Linked DNA regions of Homo sapiens: region 2 is linked to region 1. Evidence: fine-mapped expression QTL. A gene starts in region 1. The other region holds a variant in brackets. All regions are shown on one strand. Distances are between the middles of the regions.

Region 1 (8,272 bases):
CGAGGGCTAAGACGTCTCACTGCACTTGTTTTTTCTTTCTTTTTTTTTTTTTGCCGGAGTCTTGCTGTGTCACCCAGGCTGGAGTGCAGTGGTGTGATCTCAGCTCACCAACCTCTGCCTCCCGGGTTCACGCCATTCTCCTGCCTCAGCCTCCCAAGTAGCTGGGACTACAGGCGCCCAGCACCACACCCGGCTAATTTTTGTATTTTATTAGAGACAGGGTTTCACCATGTTGGCTAAGCTGGTCTTGAACTCCTGACCTCAGGTGATCCACCTGCCTCGGTGCCCTGGAGTACTGCGATTCCAGGTGTGAGCCACCACGCCTGGCCCTCACTGCACTCATGAGCAAGAAACACACAGCCGAGGCCGGTCACGGTGGCTCACGCCTAGAATCCTAGCACTTTGGGAGGCTGAGGCCAGACGATCGTCTGAGCTCAGGAGTTTGAGACCCGCCTGGGTAACATGGCAAGACCCTTTTCTATGAAAAATAGAAAAAATCAGCCGGGTGTGGTGGTGCATGCCTGTGGTCCCGGCTACTTGGGAGGCCGAGGTGGGAGGATCACTTGAGCCCAAGAGATGGAGGCTGCAGTGAGACGTGACTGGAAAAAAAAAAAGAAATTTAAAAAAATTACTTAAGAAGAAACACATGAAGCCTCATGGAAGGTTTTGCTGAGGGCCTGGCACAGCCTGGACACTCCGGCTACCGTGGCTGGTGTGGCCCAGCCCCGCAGCTGCACCCGCTGCCCCACACAGCGTCCCTGGGCCAGCCTTCCCTCTCCCTGCGTCCTCCAACAGCGCACGCTGCCCACGGCTGTCCAGGCCTCCTGTGCCTGGCGGATGGCTCCCCCCTGCCGGTGTCGTGGAAGTGGGGAACCGGCCCCGGGGGTGCACAGTGGGAGCGCCACGCGCCACTCACAACAGCCCAAGGTGCCGGGACCACAGGTGGCTGTAAGGAAGACGCCCATCTCTGGCCTCGGGCTGCCCTGGACCCCTCCTGCCTCTGCAGCTGGTTTTCTCCCCTGGGTCTCTCTCTCCTCAAACCTCTGTCTTCCACCCACTCTCTGCTAACCACAAGCCTCCCCCCCCGCAGCATAGGGAAGTCAGAGGCCGTCCTGTCCCCCATCCAGCACCTTCACCGAGTTCCCCGGGTTCCTGCACACGGTTCAGCCTGCAGGCCCTGCACAGGGTTGGGGCCGCGCCTCTGAGAGCCCCCCGCCCCCCGCCCCGTGGGGCAGGCGAGGCCAGACCTCCAGGCAGGATGGCGGGTGGGTGGGGGAAGGGGTCAGGTGGCCGGGACTGGAGCGGCCAGATCCTGTGGGGCCCGCAGGTCGACGGCTATGGGAAAGGGGCCTCCTCCCCAAACCTGGCGCCCATACCCATCGCTTCCTGTCTCCTCCCCTCTGGGCACAGCACCCCCCAGGCCCCGTGGGACTTATTCCCCAGCAGGACCCCTTGCCGCACCCCCAGATGGACACGGGGCCACCTCCTCTTGGTCTCCATGCTCACCCTCCCCGCCCCCTCGCCTGACGCCATCTCTGCTGGCAACTCCTGTGCCATCTGTGCCGAAGGCCCTGCCTGAACTCTGGCTCAGTGCCCATCTGCACCCTCCCCGTGGGGCCTCACAGCTGCCCTTCTGGACGTACGCAAGGGCTGTCCCTCGCCCGGCCCGTGGGCTGCTCTGCTGTGTGAATGCCCCGTCATTTGTGTCACCGGTGAGCTGCTCAATAAGATGAACAAGTCACCTCCAGCCTCGCAGCCCAAGGATAGGAGTCACGGGGAGCCGGGGAGGGGCCTTCTGCGGCGAGAGGGATGGGAGGGTGGACGTCACACCCCTGCAGCCCCTCCGGGGACCACCCTGTGTGGCAAGCTGCTCTCCGGCTGTTCAAAGTGTCAGCTGCGCCACGGGGCGGGGGGGAGGGGCTCCTCTGCCCGCTGGCCGCCTCCCACTTGGCCCCATAAACTGCTCGCTCCTCTAACTCTGTCCCTGCCTCTAGATGGATGACTCACACCGTGTGGTCTGATGAGCATTCTTTATTTTTTGTGATGGAGTCTCGCTCTGTCACCCAGGCTGGAGTGCAATGGTGCCATCTTGGTTCGCCGCAACCTCTGCCTCCCAGGTTCAAGCAATTCTCCTGCCTCAGCCTCCCGAGTAGCTGGGATTACAGGCGTGCGCCACCACGCCTGGCTAATTTTTTTTGTATTTTTAGTAGAGACGGGCTTTCTCCATGTGGGTCAGGCTGGTCTCGAACCCCTGACCTCAGGTGATCCGAGGCCCACCTCGGCCTCCCAAAATGCTGGGATTACGGGCGTGAGCCACTGATGGCGCCTCTTTCTATCCAGGGGCCCAGACCCCCTCCCAGCCTCGGGGCTGAAGATCTCCAGGCCTCTCAAAGGCCCCCAGGCCCAGCTGGCCCCACCCCTTTCCTTCCGAGCGTCGGGGCGGCCTGGAGCTGCAGAGACCCCTTCCTTCTCTGCAGTGTCTGAGGGCTGCCTCTCCAAGGCAGGCTCCTACATCTTGGATTTGAGAACTCCGGGGTGTCACAAACAGCTAATTCCTGTCATTTACCTTGGAAAAGGAGGAACCGCCTTACGGGGTGAGGCGGTGGCTGCAGGTCTCAAAAGGGTGTTGAACCACATCCACGCTCACGTTCCCGAGAGCCCCCACCCCCAGCATTCATGGGGGTCTCCACCTGTGCTGGACGGCGCAGAAGCAGGGCTGGGCAATCCAGGGAGGCTTCCTGGTGGAGGCAGGGTCCCAGAACCCCTCGGTGCCCACAGGGGAAACTGAGGCTCAGAAAGACATAGGACAGTCTCCCAAGAGCTCTGCGAGGGGCTCCTCCTCAACTCCCTCCGGGACCTGGATCTGTCTGGTGTGACGGATGAAGGTGGCTCTGAGAGACCGGGCCCTGGGTGCCCGCGGGGGCGGCTGACACTGTCCCGAGGAGGCGCCAGCACCCTCTCGTCTCCCCACCAGCTCCTCCTGGTGCCCCTCCCAAGCCCCGGGGAACTTCCCAGGTTGGCCTGAGGGGGGTCCTGGAGAGCTGCAAGCAAGGGGGAGGGGAGCCCACAGGCCTGCAGCCCATGGTGAGTTTCACACCTGAAGCCAGCCAGGTGGGGTGTGCTGAGCCGAGGGGTCCCTGTCCCCATTCTGTGGGGTTCCCCAGCACGGGGCTCCATGGTTGAGGCTCTCTGGGGGTGGCCAGAATTTGTGGAGACCTCTCGGGGACTCGCAGATACCACCCGGAGGCAGTGGGATGGAGGAGTGATTGGCTGACCCCCGCCCTCCAAGGGGCCCCCATGGGACAAGGTGCTATAAACGCCGCCCCCTGCACTGGGGACACCAATGTGGCCGCAGACTTTGCATAGAAAACCTTTCTGATCCCCGCCAGCCTGGTTTCCCCGCCCCTGCCGGCGACCTGCGGGGGACCGGGCTGTGTCCGCAGTGTCTACACCCCCTCCTCACACGCACTTCACCTGGGTCGGGATTCTCAGGTCATGAACGGTCCCAGCCACCTCCGGGCAGGGCGGGTGAGGACGGGGACGGGGCGTGTCCAACTGGCTGTGGGCTCTTGAAACCCGAGCATGGCACAGCACGGGGCGATGGGCGCGTTTCGGGCCCTGTGCGGCCTGGCGCTGCTGTGCGCGCTCAGCCTGGGTCAGCGCCCCACCGGGGGTCCCGGGTGCGGCCCTGGGCGCCTCCTGCTTGGGACGGGAACGGACGCGCGCTGCTGCCGGGTTCACACGACGCGCTGCTGCCGCGATTACCCGGGTAAGTAAACCGCGTTTACTTAACGCGGACCGGCCAAGGCGTCCCGCGGAAGCCGGGATGGGTGGGCGCCCCCCTTCCCGTGCTCAGACCGGCGTTGCTGAGGTCTAAGGAGGGTGGGCACAGAGCCGCCAGCAGCGGGAGCCTTCCGGAGGGAGGCAGGATCCCAGAGGGAGGCGGAGGTGTGCCAGCTCCAGCCAGTGGCCCCGGCCGGGAGCAGGGGTGAGCCAGGTGGGAGCGCCCTCAAGAGGGGTCTGGGGTCTGGAGGTGGAGGACGGCTGTTCCAGGTCCTGCTGGGCGGGTCGTGAGCCCTTGGCCATCGCCCAGCCCCCTCCTGCCCAGTTGAGGGCCCCCCTGCACCACCGTCTGGCCTGCTGCCTGCCTCTGACCTGCACCTGGGGATGAGGGTTCAGCTGACACGGCTGGTCTGGAGAGGAAGCTGGCAGGGAAGTCACCCCAGAGCTTCTTCCTCCAGGGCCTGTGGGTTGGGAAGGGAGGCTCTGTCCGGAGGCCCAGTGTGGCTGGTGGTGGGGACAGCAGCGCCCAGACACCAGGCAGGCGGCCTCTGAGGTGTCGACGGGCCTCCAGGGGACTGTGCACTGTTGGGGGCCACCCCTGGGTCCTGCAGGGGCAGCTCCTGGTTGCATATGGAGTTAGCACCTGGGCAGGGGCAGCTGTGGGGCGCAAAGGGGGAGTAGCCAGGCCACATGGCCCCAGGAGAAAGAGACAGCTGGATAAACCCAGGGTCCAGACTCCCAGCCAGGAGCCCTCTGCTCCCTGGAGCCAACTGTGGGTGGAGAACGGACAACCTCACTCCCCTGGAGGGCCGAGGGGAGGCCTGGGGAGGAGGGGGCCTCAGCCCAGCTGCTGGGGGGCTGGCCTGTCTCCTGCCCAGGCGAGGAGTGCTGTTCCGAGTGGGACTGCATGTGTGTCCAGCCTGAATTCCACTGCGGAGACCCTTGCTGCACGACCTGCCGGCACCACCCTTGTCCCCCAGGCCAGGGGGTACAGTCCCAGGGTAAGTCCTGGAGGTGCCTCTGGGAGTCCACACAGGCCAGGGGTTCCACTAGGGCCCGAGGCAGAGCTCGTGGGCACAGGTGTCCGGCGAGGACATGTGGTGTGTGGGGTCCGGAGTCCTGTGAGGCCGGGCAGGCCAGGCCATGCTCAGGCACCACAGGCCATGAAGCTCTGGGGGTGTCCTGTCCCTGCTTTCTCAGCCTGGGCTTCTCCATCCAGCACGAGGGCTGTGAGAACCCTGCGGGGAGGTGGGGGCGGGTTCCAGGAGCTGTCTGGCTCTCAGGCCCGGGACACCCATCCTGTCTGTCCTCACCACATACTGAAAGAGCCTGCCCTGTGCCCCCCGGAGTCCTGTCTGGGGCCTGGGGCTGCACCCTGTTCTGGAAGGAGCAGCTCAAGTCCTCTTAGCGGCTTGTTTACCTGACAGGAGAGGTCAGGCTGGGCACATGAGAGCTGGGAGAAGGTACAACTGGGGAGGTTGTGTCAGGTTGGACGGGGCAGGGTCTGGGGTCAACTGGGACCCAGCCTCACTCTCTCTGGGACCCTCACTGTTCTCCACCCTCTGTTCTACTGGGTCCTGCCTGGCTTCTGCCCACCCTCAGCCCCCAATGGGCAGGCCTTTCCCCTCCCTGGCAGGCCCACTGCACTCTGCGCACCTCCCCCAGGTGCCCTCACTGGGCCCCACCCCAGACGCCCCACCTGGGACGGGCAGACATGGGCCCCAGTCCTGGGCCATGAAGAACTCTGTTGAATGGATGATGGGGGGGGCATTCTACTCAGCACCCAGACCCCAGATGGACCCCTGCACTGGCCTGACGCCCTCCTCATCCATCCCAGCAACTCCACCAGCCTCCCTCCCTCCCTCCCCCCACACCCCACACCAGGGAAATTCAGTTTTGGCTTCCAGTGTATCGACTGTGCCTCGGGGACCTTCTCCGGGGGCCACGAAGGCCACTGCAAACCTTGGACAGAGTGAGTCCTGGGTGGGCCCTGCCGGTGGCCGGGTGGTCCAGGCCCACTCTGAGGAAGGGTCCTCTCCTGTCCCTTGCCCCAGACAGCACGGAGGGCAGCAGCCGGGGGCTGATCGGAGGCCGTGTCCGGGGGCTGATAGGAGGCCGCGTCCATGTATTCCAGCTGCACCCAGTTCGGGTTTCTCACTGTGTTCCCTGGGAACAAGACCCACAACGCTGTGTGCGTCCCAGGGTCCCCGCCGGCAGAGCCGCTTGGGTGGCTGACCGTCGTCCTCCTGGCCGTGGCCGCCTGCGTCCTCCTCCTGACCTCGGCCCAGCTTGGACTGCACATCTGGCAGCTGAGGAGTCAGTGCATGTGGCCCCGAGGTCTGTCACAGCCTGGTGCGGGGAGGTGGGAGCATGGCTGCCTGCTGACCGTGGCCCCCCTGCAGAGACCCAGCTGCTGCTGGAGGTGCCGCCGTCGACCGAAGACGCCAGAAGCTGCCAGTTCCCCGAGGAAGAGCGGGGCGAGCGATCGGCAGAGGAGAAGGGGCGGCTGGGAGACCTGTGGGTGTGAGCCTGGCCGTCCTCCGGGGCCACCGACCGCAGCCAGCCCCTCCCCAGGAGCTCCCCAGGCCGCAGGGGCTCTGCGTTCTGCTCTGGGCCGGGCCCTGCTCCCCTGGCAGCAGAAGTGGGTGCAGGAAGGTGGCAGTGACCAGCGCCCTGGACCATGCAGTTCGGCGGCCGCGGCTGGGCCCTGCAGGAGGGAGAGAGAGACACAGTCATGGCCCCCTTCCTCCCTTGCTGGCCCTGATGGGGTGGGGTCTTAGGACGGGAGGCTGTGTCCGTGGGTGTGCAGTGCCCAGCACGGGACCCGGCTGCAGGGGACCTTCAATAAACACTTGTCCAGTGACCTGAGTGGATGCATGCTGGGTGCTGGGGGAGGACGGGGCACCCGGGGCTGGGCTTTGGGGCACCGTGCTCATGCCTGGCCGTGGTCCCCTCCACAGGGGGCAAAGCGGAGGGCAGCCAGGGCCCATTCTGGGAACTCCTGGCTGGGTGGGGGTGGGGCCCGAGGAGGGGCCATTCCAGTCCTGGGCCCAGCGCTCCTCAGGGATACAGGCTCAGCGGCTTCCCCCGTTCTGGGGCTCTTCTCTGGTGCCCCTGGGTCTCTGGTTTCTGGCCACACAGCCTGCCGGCCCCCGGGTGCCATCCAGCACTTTCTGGTGCTGGGCGGCCCCGTCTCCAGGCCAGCCCTCTCTCCTCACCATCCCACCCTCGGCCCGCCCAGCCTCCCACTCCAGGCTCCAGGTGAGATCTGATACAGGCTCCCTCAGCTGCCGGGGAGTGGCGGGCAGGCTGGTGCAGGCGTCTCAGCAGCACCCTGGAGGCACAGCACACCTGGCCCCCAGCTCAGCTCCCAGTGGGGCGGTGGGCCCAGCTCACAGTAGGTGGACGGGGCAGAGGGGACGTCTGCTCCCCTCCCCCCCCAACATGGGACCTGGAGTGTGGAGAGCCCAAGGGTGGCACAGGGACACTGGGGAAGGTGCTCAGCCCTGGAGGCAGGACCCGGCCCTTCGGCGTCGTGGAGTACTGGGCTCGGGGCTGGGTACTGGGCTTGGGGATGGGTACTGGGCTGGAGGCTGGGTACTGGGCTCGGGGATGGGTACTGGGCTGGAGGCTGGGTACTGGGCTAGAGGCTGGGTACTGGGCTCGGGGCTGGGTACTGGGCTGGAGGCTGGGTACTGGGCTCGGGGATGGGTACTGGGCTGGAGGCTGGGTACTGGGCTCGGGGATGGGTACTGGGCTGGAGGCTGGGTACTGGGCTCGGGGATGGGTACTGGGCTGGAGGCTGGGTGCTGGGCTCGGGGCTGGGTACTGGGCTCGGGGCTGGGTACTGGGCTCGGGGCTGGGTACTGGGCTGGGGGCTGGGTACTGGGCTCGGGGCTGGGTACTGGGCTGGAGGCTGGGTACTGGGCTGGAGGCTGGGTACTGGGCTGGGGGCTGGGTACTGGGCTCGGGGCTGGGTACTGGGCTGGAGGCTGGGTACTGGGCTCGGGGCTGGGTACTGGGCTGGAGGCTGGGTACTGGGCTGGGGGCTGGGTACTGGGCTCGGGGCTGGGTACTGGGCTGGGGGCTGGGTACTGGGCTGGAGGCTGGGTACTGGGCTCGGGGCTGGGTACTGGGCTGGAGGCTGGGTACTGGGCTCGGGGCTGGGTACTGGGCTGGAGGCTGGGTACTGGGCTCGGGGCTGGGTACTGGGCTGGAGGCTGGGTACTGGGCTCGGGGCTGGGTACTGGGCTGGAGGCTGGGTACTGGGCTCGGGGCTGGGTACTGGGCTGGAGGCTGGGTACTGGGCTCGGGGCTGGGTACTGGGCTGGAGGCTGGGTACTGGGCTCGGGGCTGGGTACTGGGCTGGAGGCTGGGTACTGGGCTCGGGGCTGGGTACTGGGCTGGAGGCTGGGTACTGGGCTCGGGGCTGGGTACTGGGCTGGAGGCTGGGTACTGGGCTCGGGGCTGGGTACTGGGCTGGAGGCTG
Region 2 (8,349 bases), 31 kb before region 1:
GGCCTCACCATCCGGGAATGGGGGCCCTCTAGGTTCTTCAGCAGCAGCCAGTCCCCCACCCTACCCAGTCCCGGAGGTAGGAGCTGTGATGACAGATGGACATGCCAGAAATGGGACCCAGGGCCGCGTAGAGCAAGATGGTGATGAGAGACAAAGAGACGTGGAGTGGTGGGGCGGGGGGCCGGGGCTGAATGAGTTGGGGGCCAGGGCCCGGGTGAATGGGGGCGGCGGGGGCTGGGGCAGGGACCACGGCCGGGGTGAATGAGGTGGGGGATGGGGGCTGGTCGGGGGTGGCTGGGGGCTGGCATGGGGGCCAGGGTGAATGGGGGGGGCTGGGGCCAGGGTGAATGGGGGGCGTGGGGATGTCCTGGTGCTGGCACCACCTCCCTGGCCTCTGCCTCCTGGTTTCTGCCCCAGTGGGAGGTGATCAGCCACTTAGCCGCAATTCCCCTGGAATGTGCCATCTCTAGCCCCCTCTGGGCACCCAGGAGCAAAGGAATGGACAGGTCGGGGTGGGGTGGGCGGCCTCACAGGAGGGTCCAGGCTCCCAGCCCACCCAGCCAAGGCTCCATCCTCTGGCCCAGCCCAGCTGCACCCCTTCATTCTCTCTCAGCCTCACCTCCTGGGCTGGACCCACACTGCAATGTTTGCCATAGAAGGGACCCTGGACTCTTGACGAGGGTGGGAGATGCCTGTCACTCACCCAGCCGGAGCGTGGGGTCCCCGGGGCAGGTGCAGGCCAGCCAGAGCTGCTGTTGCTTGGGGTCTGGGCTGGCTGGGGGACCTGGGGAGCCCAGGGAAACGGATCTCTTCAGGCCTGTGCCCCCCGGTTTGGGAGCTGGGGTATTGAGTGTCCCAAGCGTCTGGCAGCTTCGTGGACCCTGGCAGGAGCAAAGCCAGAGCAGCCGGCTACGTGCCGGACGGCCTCAACCCGACCCCTGACCCCTGACCCTTGACCCCATGCCCTGAGCGGCAGGGAGCTGCCGGCTTCTCCGTGACCTCCACCAGGGCTGACTTCCCAGAACCGCAGGCCGACCCTGCTGCCTGGCCGGGGCTGGGGGCATCGGACACTCCTGCCGTGGGCTCCCTGCCATCCTGGGAGGGGCCATGCCCGGTGCGGGGACACTCCCCCCACCAACCCTCCAGCTCGTCTGCTCACAGGACCAGCCCTTCCCTAGAGTCCCAGCGCTGGACCTGCCTGACCCACCCTGCCCCGGGGCTGCCTCGGCTGGGTCGGAGCCAGTATTCCCAGCCCTGGTGCTGTCCTGGTCTTGAATGGACAGAAATGCGGACGGGAGCTCAGGGCAGCCAGGAAGTCCTCTTGGGGCCAGGTGCGGCAGCCACCCTGAGGGGGCAGCAGGAGCCAGGGGAGGCAGGGCTGGGGGCTCCTGGCTGTGAGGAGGAGGCTGGGCCCCGCTCCGGCCCCGCCTGTCAGGTGTGGACACCATTGCCCATCCGTCCCCGGTGCCTCAAGGGCCCCACTGTTGGGGTACGTAGGAGATGCGGCTGCCCTGGCCTGGCCCCTGGGGGCGCCTGGGTGTGGACCCTGGGGCTGCAGCCAGGACAGGCAGGCGCTGGAGGCCCAGCTTTGGCATCTTGTCTTCGCATCCTTCTCCCCGCCTCTGTCACCCCTGCCGCCCCTGCCGCCCTGCAGCTGGGAGGGTGTCTGCTCCAAAGGCCCCTCGGACTGCCTGCCAGCCTCTCTGGAGTAAGCCCAGGGCGTTCCTGGGGCCTGTCCCAGACCCCAGACCACACCACACCTGGTGACCACTGTCATCTGGGCCTTGGAACAAGAATGGCCTGGGGGCATGTAGGGGCTGTGTAGGGTCCAAACAGACCTGCCTGCCCTGCTTTGTAAAAATCTATGTACCCAGGTGCCCCGTGTTGACCCCGGGTTGACAGTTGTGTGTCCCTGCGACTGGTGCGTGTGTGCCCACGTGTCTGCACATCTGTGTGGGTCTCTGCCCTGGGACTGGGACTCTCTACAGAGCCAGCAGCACGGCCCCCTTGAGAACAAACCCAGAACAGCCGTCCAGGACCCCGGGCCCGAGCGCTTGGCTGGCCACTCAGTGCCTGGAGCGGGCGTGGCCGGGGTCCCTGGCGTCCGGGAGGCCACATAGCTTCGGTCCTGCCAGGGACAGCAGAGGGGCCCATGGAGCTGTGACGGCTGCTTCGGCATGTGGGGCTCCCTGAACTGCGTGAAGGGGTCCAGGGACGGGGCTCCCACCCTCAGCTGGGGGCTGCTCAGCGCGCTGTCCCAAGGGGAAGCTCTTTCCTGCCTGCAGAGCGCTGCCCTGGGATCTGCTGTGCTCCGACGCCGCTGGGAGCTGGAGCTGGGGGCAGAGCTCGGCGCCGCGTCCTGGGGCCGTCGCTCACGGGCTGGGCTTGGCCAGTCTGTGCTTGGACTCCCAGTTCAGGTCACTCTGAGCTATGGTGACCTCAGGGCCTGTCCCCCAGGGGTCTCCCTCAGCCTGACCCTGACCCAGGAATGGCAGCGTGTCTGGTTGCGGGAACACGCCCTGGCCCTGCCTGTGCCTGCCGAGCCACCGGCGTGTCTGTCCGCCTGCGCATCTGACTGCTGTACAGGTGGGCCTGGCACCAGAGGCCTGGGGACAAAGGGTCTTTGTTTGGGAGGCTGGGGGCAGCCCCTGCTCTGGGCCAGTGACTCACGGGTGCCCGGGCGTGATGATATCTGTGTTGCGACAGCCAGGTGTCATGCGTGTGACCCAGCCCAGCAGGGCCTCCTGCCCACCCCGCCCGCGCCCACGGCCCTCACTTGGGGGTGACGAGAAGCGTGACAGGTGGGGGCTGGGCAAACCCCGTCTCCGCAGGGAAGCGTCTCCAGACCCCTTGGGCCCCCAGCCCGCACGCCCGGGCCTCTCCCTGCCACACAGGAGTGTGCAAAACACATCTCTGCAGCAGGAGGCACCACGGCCGGACTCAGGCCCTCGGGACGGGTGCTTTTTAGGCTGAGTTCAGCTGTTCCTGGGTCGGAAGGTCTGGGTGAGGCGGTTGAGGGTGAGGCACCGTGACCGTCGCCCCGGCGGGGACTTGGGCCTGGCTCTGCCCATCCCTCACTCTCTCTCCGGTCTGAGGTGGGCGGTGGCGGGTGCGGGGCCCCTGGGGGAGGCTGGGGCCGCTGAGACCTTCGGATGCCACCGGAGGGAGGGCCTGGGGCTTGGGTTTCCTTCTGCTCCAGTCACCGGGCTGGGTCCGGCCCTGGGTCAGCGGGGAGGGGAGCTGGACTGCGGCCCTCCTGGGCTCCTGTCCTGCCTGCCCGGCCGGCCCTGGAAGATCTGCGGCCACCTGTGTTTACTCTGGAGGATGCAGCTGAGGAGGTCCTGGCAGGGCCACACTCGTAACCCCTGGCTTCTCAGCTGTGGGCGCGGTCTTGCACCCTGGCTAGCTGAGTTGAGGGGACTTTGCGGCATCTGTGGCCCCGACCAGGGCAGAGTACCCGAGCCCCAGCCCAAGGAGAGGCCTCGCTGGGCAACGCGACCAGGACAGAGGCCGAGGCTGGATGGGTGGGGAGCGCCTGGGGCCTTCCAGATCCTCCTTCCTGCCCCTCCCGCCTCCACCTCCCTTCAGCCCCTTGGCTGCAGCCAGCTCTCCTGGGATCACTCATCCACTGTCTACCTCCACTGGGAACCTCGGTGAGGGAGGCTCAGATCCTTGGGGAGGGAGGAGGGGGTGGGCCCCAGAGAGACCTTCCGAGGAGGACAGGGTGGGGCCAGATCTTGGTTCTTCTCCTCGGGTGGTTCTGACCTGGCCAGCGTGGTGCAGTGTGGCCATCAGGGCAGGGCTAGCGGCACCAGCATCTAGCAGGGAGGGTGCGGAGGGCAGGGAGGCCAGAGAAGGAGGGGCTGTGAGTGCTGGGGGTGGGGACCCACCCTGGCCCTGAGGGAAAGGAGTGTGTACACCCACAGAGGCCAACTTGATGGGGTGGCCTGGGTTTCAGCTCCCAAGGCTGTGGGAAGGTCCTCTGGGTGGGGGCTGGGAGGAGACCTCAAGGGGAGGCCCAGGGGTTTGGGCTGTGCCCCCTCAAAAGCCTCCTCTTTGAGGACCCCAGAGATTGGCCAGGCCTGTGGGATGGACACAGAGGTCTTTCCCCTCAGCCCACAGTGGGAGAGGGAGACGCCAGCTCACCTCAGAGTAGGAAACCAGGAAAAAGCGCCAAGCCCTTCCCAGGCCCCTGAAACCAGGGAGCAGGCCCCACACAGCCAGTCCAAGGAGCTGGAAACTTCTGACAGGCTGCTGTGGGCCCAGGAAGCAGGGCCTTGCGCGAACAAGGGGCCTCCTCTCTCCTCCCGGCCCCGCTCTGGGTGCGGAGGGCCTGGCACGCACCTGTCTCTGGCCACCTGCTCCCGAGGACTCCCCAAGCCGTCTGGGCCGCTGGGGCTTCCATTCCTGCAACGTCAGCTGGTCTCACAGTGCCACAGCTGGGGAGCCTGGGGCCGGTGGGGCCACAGGAGGGCCGTGACCCCCTTAGACCTGAGGACTCTGAGCTGGGACAGTCAGCCAGGGAGAGGGTGGAAGAGTCTGGGGTGACCCAGGCCGCGGGGGCAGCCCTGCTGCAGGCTGGACTGATGGAGGCCTGCCGGGAACAGGGTGTGTGCTGAGCCCTGCGGGGAGGAGATCTGGGCCCAGTCAGTGCTGGGCGTCTGTGATGCCACAAGGTTGCAGGAGCCCCTGCCTGCGTCTGCACCGAAGAGCGCCGGGCACAGGGAACTGGGCTGGCATCCTGGGGCTGCTGGACGGGGCGTCTTCCCTCGCAGCCCTGGAGGCCACGCTCCTGACTCTGGGTAGAGCCCTTCCTTGCCTGGTGGGGTGGGGGTGGAGGGTCCTCAATCCTTGGCCTGCAGAGGCATCGCCTGGGTGTCAGTCTCTAGCCACACAGTGGCTTTTTCCCAGGTCT[T/C]TTCTGGTAAGGACACCAGTTCCGTGGGAGTAAGGCCACCTCAGGACCTTGCCTTAACGCAATTCCACCTGCAGAGACCCGACTTCCAGACAAGGTCAGTTTGTAGCTGCTGGGTTAGGGCTTGGAATATCTTTTAGGGGGCACAGTTCAGTCCCGTAACAGGAGCCTTGACAGCCAGGATCCCAGCCAGACACAGGTGGGCAGGTGGGAACCTGGAGGCCTCAGGGGCGGGGGTGCCTCCGGATGCAGGTAGCACTTTGCATCTTGGGGGTGACCAACCAGGCCACAGGCCCGGCGGGTACCCAGGGCTGGCCCAGAGAGCTGGAGCCAACGTCAGGTGCCTGCATGCCAGCCTCAGGGGGCAGAGAGGCAGGACCATAGTCCCCAGGAAGAGGGCAGAAGGGGGTGCTCTCCTCCTGGGGGATCCTGAAGGGACCAGAGCCCATCCTCTTGGCTTGACCTGCATTCCCTGCCGGCCCTGTGCCTCCTGGGGGCTGTGTGCGTGTGGCTGCGCCGTGCCCGTCCAGCCCTGACACTGTCCCCTCCATGGTAGGTTCTCGGGGCCACTAGAGGAGAAACATCCGTGTGGCTGAGGAAGAGTTGGCTGTTTTGTATCCCAAGTTCCCACATGGAAATGAATTCGGTGACCCCCCATCTCCCGAGGGCCTCCTGGTTTGGCCCTGGTCTCCGGGAACCGAGTACCTGGGTGGGTGGGGAGCTGTACAAGCTAAGACCAGGGAAGGACGCCTGGGGGACGGATGCCACGGCCCGTGCACGGTCGATTGGAGCCGCAGGGCAGGGAGGATCTACAGGGCAAGTTCCAGGTGAGACCAGAGAGAGCTGCAGCTGCCCCGGCTCTGGAAGCCCCCAGCCCTCCCGAGGCCCAGCCTTCAGCCCACGTATCCTCTGAACCCGTTCACCACGGTACGGCTGGGGAGGGTCAGCCTGGGGCAGGCTTTGTTCTGATATGAAATTTAATGTCTTAGGCTGAAAAACACTAAATTTCCATTTTTTTGTAGGTCAGAAGTGGTTGCAAACTGGATTTTTAGACTCTTCCTGTTGGGGGTCTCGGACATTTGCTCTTTTCCACAGCGGCCAATTCTTCAGAGCCACAAAGAACTGGGCGACGCAGGCCAGAGGTGTGGGAGTCCAGCCCTTGGTTCGAATCCCGCTCTCCACTGTCCATGGGGTTCTCAGCAAGCCCTCTGGCCTCTCCAAGCACACGCAGGGTTCCTCAAGCAATTCCAAACTCCAGAGAAGACATCCCAGGTAAAATCGGATGGCAGGGACCTGGGACACCGCTGTGACGGGCAGCCCCTGGGCTCGAGTCCACAACTCCCACGGGAGGGCAGGGCCCCATCCTGCTCACACCGGGGTCCCCAGCCCTCGATCCTCACGAGTCCTCGTCCAAGAACAAACTGTGCACACACGGGCGGTCAGTCCTGGATTCAAGGTGGCCCATCGGAGCTCGAACTCAACGGCCTGACCTAGGGACGCCTCCAGTCCCACCCCTACCTTTTGGAGGTGGGAGAATCACCGTGCAGGTCACTGACCCACTGACCACAGATCACCACTCTCTCCCGCCCCCGTTTCTTCCTCCTGAGACCACTGCTGCCTTCAAACGCAAGTAACCCAAACCTGCTCCCAAACCCATGGCAAGACTGACCCGGAGCCTAACCCAGCCCTGCCCCGAGCCTGACCCTGATGCTCGAGACTAGACCCCAGACTGGACCCGGTCCCAAAGTGGGACAACAAAGACCACAGCGGGGACCACCCAGGTCCCCCAGAGAGAAAACCCGCGTCGGACTCCAGGGAGCTCATGGTAACCCCTTGTCCTGGGGCAGCTTCATTTTACTTTGGCAAGGACCGCAGTGTTCGCTTTTCTCATTAAACGAGGGGCTTTCAAGGATGTGTTAAAGTACGTGAGAGACGGGCCTGGTGCCGGCTGGTCCTGTTTTCTTAAGGCGGAAGTTGGGGAACCGCGTCAGCACTCCGGGGTTCGGATTCCTGGAACCTGGGGCAGAGTCTGAAATAAAGCAGCACCGGCCCTGTGTGGCGCGGACCCATGGGAAGCCTTGAAAGGAAAGTCTCTTCAGAAAGAAACAATGGGTTCAGTGACTTGTACACTGAAAAGATAGATGGCCAGTTTTAAAGTTCTCCTGCGTTTAAACACGGGCAGCAGCGGGGTTGACGGTACAGGCACCAAGTTCTGACATAAAAGTCTTTCCTTAAATCATGTAAAAAAACCGAGACGTGCGCACTGCCAACTTACACTCATCGACACAAACTTACAATATTTATAAATAAGTCGCAAGCAAACACTGAGTTACATTTACCACGAAGTCACTGGACAGAGACCAAAATCCCATGAAAGCGGATTGATGTGAAACCACGTTAGATCTGAGACGCAGACGTGAGAAACGCCACTGATAAGAGACACGGAAGATCGGAGCCCAGCCCCGTGAGCCGGTCGGGGACAGCACGGGGGTCAGCGTGCGGCCGGGCCCGGCTCAGGCTCGCTGAGGTCCAGGAACGGGCACCTCCACCTGGACACGGCGCGCTGCCCCGGCAACCCCCAGGGGTCTCCCAAACGCAGACCGGGACGCAGCGACCACAAGCGTGGCTGCGGGACGGGGGCCTTGGGGCCCGGGCGTAGTGCGCCCGCTCGGCACCTGCCCCAAGGCGCCGCCGGGTGAAGCAGGTGTCCCGGAGGGCCGGGCCGCGGCGGCTCAGGGGATGCCCTCCCTTCTCTGGCAGCACTGCGAGGGCGGCGCGGACCAGTCGTACACGTAGGACAGGCGCAGCTGCACCTCGCGCTTGCACAGGCGGCCCTCGCGCGCCAGCGTCGCGTGCTTCTCCAGCATGTCCTCCAGGCTCTGCTTGTGCGTCACCAGGTACTGGTTGCTGCAGCCGCGGGACCGGTATTCGGTGTCGAAGCGCGGGTCGTGCTCCCGCTGGACGTCCACCGGCGCCAGCCAGGCGCCCAGAGACACGTCCTCGCTGTGCCAGGCGCGCAGGTAGTCGCGGCTGAGGCGCAGGTAGTGCACCAGGTCGGCCGAGAGCACGTAGCCGCCGCCCAGCGCGTAGGGCAGGTAGTAGTCGCAGAGTTGCCAGGCGGCCTCGCGCCAGCGCCCCCCCGGCTTGACGCGGCCGCGGCCCGAGAAGAAGCCCCAGTAGAGGCGGCGGCGGCGCGCGGGCTCGCGGGCGCGCAGCTCGGCCAGCAGCGCGTCCAGCCGCGCGAAGGAGTCGTCGTCCGCCTTGAGCACGAACTCGAAGGCCACGTGCTCGTCCAGCCAGGCCAGCATGGCCAGCACCTTGGCCGTGAGGTTTTCGTAGGCGTCGCGCAGCGCGGGCAGCAGCAGCAGGTCCCCGTGCCGCGCCTGCTCCCGCTCCAGGGCGCGCCGCTCCTCGGCGCCCAGGCCGGCCGTGCCCAC

What was found.
Region 2: its variant is fine-mapped to the expression of TNFRSF18 in whole blood (TOPMed, PIP above 0.99).

Annotation. Positions count from the first base shown.
Region 1 is chr1:1,201,882-1,210,153 of GRCh38, reverse strand. It overlaps TNFRSF18 (TNF receptor superfamily member 18), which reads left to right and starts at 3,562. Exons shown (of 5, transcript NM_004195.3): 1 at 3,562-3,769; 2 at 4,662-4,784; 3 at 5,668-5,755; 4 at 5,918-6,120; 5 at 6,186-6,646. The coding sequence starts at 3,583. The coding sequence ends at 6,310. RefSeq lists silencers at 1,127-1,236, 1,817-1,906, 4,779-4,979 and an enhancer at 1,103-1,982.
Region 2 is chr1:1,232,564-1,240,912 of GRCh38, reverse strand. B3GALT6 (beta-1,3-galactosyltransferase 6) reads right to left here. Exons shown (of 1, transcript NM_080605.4): 1 at 5,872-8,349. The coding sequence ends at 7,645. Among named protein-coding and RNA genes, the nearest start is that of B3GALT6, 4.5 kb to the right of the region's middle. RefSeq lists enhancers at 6,309-6,810, 7,595-8,276, 8,277-8,349. The variant T/C (reference allele first, on the strand shown) is at 4,916.